Linked DNA regions of Homo sapiens: region 2 is linked to region 1. Evidence: fine-mapped expression QTL. A gene starts in region 1. The other region holds a variant in brackets. All regions are shown on one strand. Distances are between the middles of the regions. Region 1 holds the start of GRSF1 (G-rich RNA sequence binding factor 1). Region 2 overlaps RUFY3 (RUN and FYVE domain containing 3).

Region 1 (2,914 bases):
ATTAGCTCAGCCACTGGCAGACAGCAGCCATGCTGATTAGCCTCCCAGTCTCCCTAAGTTAAAGGAGAAGCACAAATTGAATTAAGATAAATATGACCTAAGGAATCAGGGGCTGGGTAGTTAAAAAGTGTGCAGACACTTCCCAGATGCCACGTACCAAGAAGAGAAAGGTTCATCTACAAAGCACAAAATATTTGCAATCTAACTACACACCGACTTTTCTAAAAAAATAAAGAAAAAATGGAAAGGAAAACATTGCAAATTCATTCCTGGGACCCCAAGTTGTGTCCTCAACCCTCAACGCTCCCTCCCATTCACCCCCTCCCCCCAACAGCTAAATCTCCAAACTGCTTTCCCAGACGAGGCGACACACAGTCCTTAAAGACCTTCTGTATGAGTGGAGTTGCAGAGGTGACCTTCAGTAAACCGGGACAGCTCGTCTTTCCCTGGGGACAGGAGAGGGAACGGCGCGATGGGGACAGGCTCCTTCCCTACAAGCCAGCCCACGCAACTGTGTGCGCGCACCTTCCCAGCAGCGGCCGACCGAGAGGCGCCGAGGGCCGCCCAGGCCTAGCGCTCGGGCTGCACGGAAACTCCCAACCCTCCGGCGGGCTCGGGCCTCGCAACTTCACAACCAGCCGGCGGAAAGCAAGAAGATGCGAGGTGGGGGCGTCAGCAGCCTCACGAAACCTACCATGGGCCAGGCGGGGAACAAGGCCTCAACATTCACCCCAGCCACACTTACACTGCCCAACCGACCAGAGACTCGAGGCGAGAACAAAACAAGCAGAAGACCCGACGCCTGGGAGAGCTTCCCTTGTTCCAGGGCCCAATAGGAGCACAGGGTGGACGGGGGCGGGTGTGCGGCGAGTGTCGCGGATCCCCGGGCGTGCCCGCGAGGCGCACACGGAGGGACGGAGGGGCGCGGGGGCGCGTGCACGCGGCCCGGGAGGGATCTCGCGCCAGGTCCCTCACGGCGCCCACGTACCTGGCTGTAGCTGCGCGTCGGGACGGCGGCCGCCGCCGCCAGCGACTGCGGCAGCAGAGAGGCACGGAGGGCAGAGTAGGACGCGGCGGCCGCGGCCGCGGCAGAGGTGGCCACAGCGGGAGGCCCCGCCAGCCTCCCGGGAGGCACAGGCCCGGTCTGGAGGCCACGCGTCTGGGAGGCAGCGGCCGCGGCGGCCCCGAGCAGCAGCAGCAGGCGGCGGCGGCCCGAGACGCCCGACGGGATAGAGCCAGCGGCGGAGTAGAAGGGCAGGCAGGCGGCGCCGGTGCGCCGGCAGCTGCTGCAGTTACAGCCGCAGCCCCGGAGCAGCGCCCCGAGTACCCAGCGCGTGCCGGCCATGGACTCCGGAGGCGGCGCAGGGCCTGAAGGCAGCTGCTCCAGCAGCGATGGTGGAACGGAAGTGGAATCCAGGGCCGGTTGGGGGTGGGGTGTGCCTGGCACATGCGCCGCGGGCACTGGGTGGGGGGCCTCCGAGAGTCGGAAGGAGGTGGAGGAGAGCGCGACGCTCCGCCCAGTCTCCGCCCTTGGGCGGGGCTGCCCATGGTTTGGGCGGGGCTGCCCATGGTTTGGGCGGGGCTGCCCATGGTTTGGGCGGGGCTGCCCATGGTTTGGGCGGGGCTGCCCATGGTTTGGGCGGGGCTGCCCATGGTTTGGGCGGGGCTGCCCATGGTTTGGGCGGGGCTGCCCATGGTTTGGGCGGGGCTGCCCATGGTTTGGGCGGGGCTGCCCATGGTTTGGGCGGGGCTGCCCATGGTTTGGGCGGGGCCCGGGGAAGTGGGTGCAATCGAACTGCTCTTTTTTCAGGCGGTGGAAACTGAGGCCCAAAGTAAGTGAGGCTAGGGGCCTGGCGCAGTGACTCATTCGTAGTGACTCATTCTTGTAATCCTAGCACTTTGGCAGGCAGAGGCGGGTGGACTGCCTGAGGTCAGGAGTTCGAGACCAACCTAGGCAACACGGTGAAATCCCGTCTCTACTAAAATACAAAAAATTAGGTCGGACGCGGTGGCTCCCGCCTGTAATCCCAGCACTTTAGTAGGCCGAGGTAGGGCGGATCACCTGAGGTCAGCAGTTCAAGACCAGCCTGGCCAACATGGTGAAACTGTGTCTCTACTAAAAACACAAAAATTAGCCGGGTGTGGTGACGGGTGCCCGTAATCCCAGCTACTCAGGAGGCTGAGGCAGGAGAATCGCTTGAACCCAGGAGGCGGAGGTTGCAGTGAGCCAAGATCGTGCCACCGCACTGCAGCCTGGGCGACAGAGTGAGACGCCATCTCCAAACAAACAAACAAAAAAATTAGGTTAGGGCCATCCTGCTCTGGGTAGGGCCGAGAGCTGTAGCACAAGTCTGTGCTGCCCTGCGCTGTGCCACCGAAACCCGTGGTGTGAGTGGCTAAAGAACCCTTTCTGAAAGGAATTGTGATACCTTGGTTATAAAAAAATCGTTGGGATAATATCAGAGATTTGGTACCCCCCGAATTTGAGGTATGTGAGGAAGGAGAACTTCGTTGTTTTAAAATGAAATATAGGCCTGGCGTGGTGGCTCATGCCTATAATCCCAGCGCTTTGGGAGGCTGAAGTGAGAGGATCACTGGAGCCCAAGAGTTCCAGACCAGCCTGGGCAACATAGGGAGACCCCGTCTATACAAAAAATAAATAAAGCTGGGTGTGATGGCGTGGGCCTGTAGTCCCAGCTACTTGGGAGGCCGATTGCTTCAGCCCAGAAGGTAGAGGCTGTGGTAAGCTATGATTGCCACCACTGAACTCCAGCCTGGGTGACAGAGTGAAACCCTGTCTCTAAAAAAATAAAAGAAAACATATATATTTATTATGTACTGATAATACATAACAAAGGTGAACCCTCCCCTAATGAAACTGTATTCACAAGTGAACACACAGAGATTTGCACAC
Region 2 (2,914 bases), 110 kb before region 1:
TACCTGTTCCAGTCAGACTGTGCTTCAGTAAAATCCTGATTATTCTTTTTGTTTTACTATTCTGACTTGTGATTCTTCATGCCCGTGTTATATCAGGAAGGGTAATGGACCCCTGACTCCCTTCATCTACAAGTCCTTCTCTAACAGATCTCACACCTTTCATGTCCTGAATCACTGGTTAGCATCTGGGACATTTGTTTGAATATGCTAGAAATCATTCCCCAGTTATTTAATTCATGGGATTCCTTATTTCTGAAATTATATAGAAAGTTCTTCAGGGCAAACCTTTTCTTTGGCGTTCTTCAGAAGGCCCCATGGTACTGTGTACTATTTATCGTAGATATCCAACAAACTTCTGGTGAACTCAGTGATTCCCTATTACTCCATAAAATCATTTTAAAAGAAAGGATTTGCATGTTACTGTAAAGACACATGCACACGTATGTTTATTGCGGCACTATTCATAGTAGCAAAGACTTGGAACCAACCCAGATATCCATCAATAATACACTGGATAAAGAAAATGTGGCACATATACACCATGGAATACTATGCAGCCATAAAACAGGATGTGTTCATGTCCTTTGCAAGGACATGGATGAAGCTGGAAACCATCATTCTGAGCAAGCTATCACAAGGACAAAAAACCAAACACCGCATGTTCTCACTCATAAGTGGGAGTCAAACAATGAGAACACATGGATACAGGGAAGGGAACATCACACACTGGGGACCTGTCGGTGGGTAGGGGGCTGGGGGGAGGGATAGCATTAGGAGAAATACCTAATATAAATGACGAGTTGATGGGTGCAGCAAACCAACATGGCACATGTATACCTATGTAACAAACCTGCACGTTTTGCACATGTACTCCGGAACTTAAAGTATTAAAAAAAATAAAAAGCCAGGTGCAGTGGCGGGCGCCTGTAATCCCAGCTATGTGGGAGGCCGAGGCAGGAGAATCACTTGAACTCGGGAGGCGGAGGTTGCAGTGAGCCAAGATCGCGCCACTGCACTCTAACCTGGGCAACAGAGTGAGACTCCATTTCAAAAGAAAGAGAGAGAGAGAGAGAGAGAGGAGAGAGAGAGAGAGAGAGAGAGAGGGAGGGAGGGAGGGAGGGAG[A/G]GAGAGAGAGAGAGAGAGAGAGAGAGAAAGAAAGAAAGAAAAATGGATTTTGTCTTCCTCCATTACACACAATTTAATTTATGGTTTCTAATGTTTTCTTTATTTTTAATTGTTTATCTCATATTCTGGACCGACTGTATATTATTTGGAAAATATAAGTTTAGAATAATGTAATAATTTGTTGTTTAAATATATCTTAATAATACGTAGTATTGATAAAAATATGGGACGACTTGGGGCCTCTGCTAGTGGGAATGTGCATTGGTACATCCTTTATAGAAATCATTTTATCATTGTGAATCAAGGACCTTAAAAAATTAATTCTCAGTAATTGTACCAGACACCTATCCTAAGGAAATAATAAGAGATACAAACAAAAAGTTTATGTATGTACTGTATATTTATCACGGTATTCTGACTTCCTGTAACACACTCTTGAGAGCAACTTAAATAGCCTAAGAGGAAAATTATTCAATAAGTTGTAGAACACCTTACACTAAAAATTATTGTGGAACAATATTTGATGTGTAGGGTAATGTTTGGATATAACTTTAAAAGCTGTCTCTTAAGCTGCATATTTACTATAGTCACAATTTTTTTAAGTATAGGTATACATAAACACAAGTAAAAGGAAATGTATCAAAAATATAAAAATTGATTATCTCTGGATAGTGGAATTATGGGTGATTTTTATAATATTCTTTATATTTCTTTATATCTCCCAAATATTCTACAAGAGGACATATTACTCTAATATGAAAACAAATGTTCCTTTTTCAAAGGAAAAATCTTTATGAAAATTAACGGGTGTGCAATCATCCATCCAACAGATATTTGTATTATATATCAGTACCTTCTATGACAGTTTCACACATCTGTGAGTGGGAACATTTGCCTCACAGCAGAGCTACTGCTTTAGATTCAATTTCCATTATAATTTTTTAATATTTCTATTAGGCATTTTATTTTGGGTTTTTTTCAAACACAGACCTGTGTTTATTTACTGGCATGCTCTGTTTTCATAGCTGTTTAAATGCTGTTTGCAGTGTATGGGGTGGCCCACAGTGTCTAGATTTAGAAGCATTTACAGCATTTGATTTATTCCTTTCCTAAGTGTTTGGAAAATAAAACCTGAGTCATTGGGATTCTCTTTTTCACAGAATTGTGTTATTGTTCTTTGCTTTCACTGTGGCACACCCCCTTTTGTAATTGGCCCTTGGTGAGATTACAGAAACATTTGTTGCCACCAGTGCAGTCAGCCTTAGATTTACACTGTCAGGTTCTCTGAGCTGTGATTATGTGTTCAGAAGGCAGTCTCAGTGAACTTCTCAAAGTGAGAAGGTTGTAGCTTTTAATACAGTCTCAGAAGCCTATGGGACAAAGTTTTCTGGACACGGTTCATCCCTTCTTGTTGCTCTGCCCTGAAAATAACCTGGCTAGTCACCCTTTCAAGGTAAGTTTTACCCACTTAGCTTCCAGGATTTTGTAAAATTCTAAATCTGGGTGAGAAATATCAGTAGCTCTGTACTTGTATGCCAGTTCCTATCTAAACCACGAAAGAGGTGCATGCTGCCTCTGATCTGACCGTAACATACTCTGCATAAAATCAGCTTTTCCTTCCTGTTTCAGGACTACTTTCAGTTTCTTCCTGTCTCTTTGATACTCTTGCACTAGCGTTGGCTTCAGTGCACTGTCATTAACCACAGTGCCTTACAGTATTTTCTTCTATTGGTGAGCCTTTTCTGGACCTTTCGTGAAACAGAGCTTCTACTTGAATCTTTAATTTGTGCC

Evidence for each region. PIP is the estimated chance that this variant, and not a neighbour inherited with it, causes the effect.
Region 2: its variant is fine-mapped to the expression of GRSF1 in whole blood (INTERVAL, PIP 0.94).

What each region holds. Positions count from the first base shown.
Region 1 is chr4:70,838,483-70,841,396 of GRCh38, forward strand. It overlaps GRSF1 (G-rich RNA sequence binding factor 1), which reads right to left and starts at 1,408. Exons shown (of 10, transcript NM_002092.4): 1 at 989-1,408. The coding sequence starts at 1,345. It overlaps LOC124900710 (a long non-coding RNA gene), which reads left to right and starts at 510. Exons shown (of 3, transcript XR_007058131.1): 1 at 510-663. RefSeq lists enhancers at 111-765, 766-1,419 and silencers at 816-1,365, 1,426-1,675.
Region 2 is chr4:70,732,018-70,734,931 of GRCh38, forward strand. The region is part of intron 1 of RUFY3 (RUN and FYVE domain containing 3); the gene reads left to right. Among named protein-coding and RNA genes, the nearest start is that of RUFY3, 12 kb to the left of the region's middle. The variant A/G (reference allele first, on the strand shown) is at 1,124.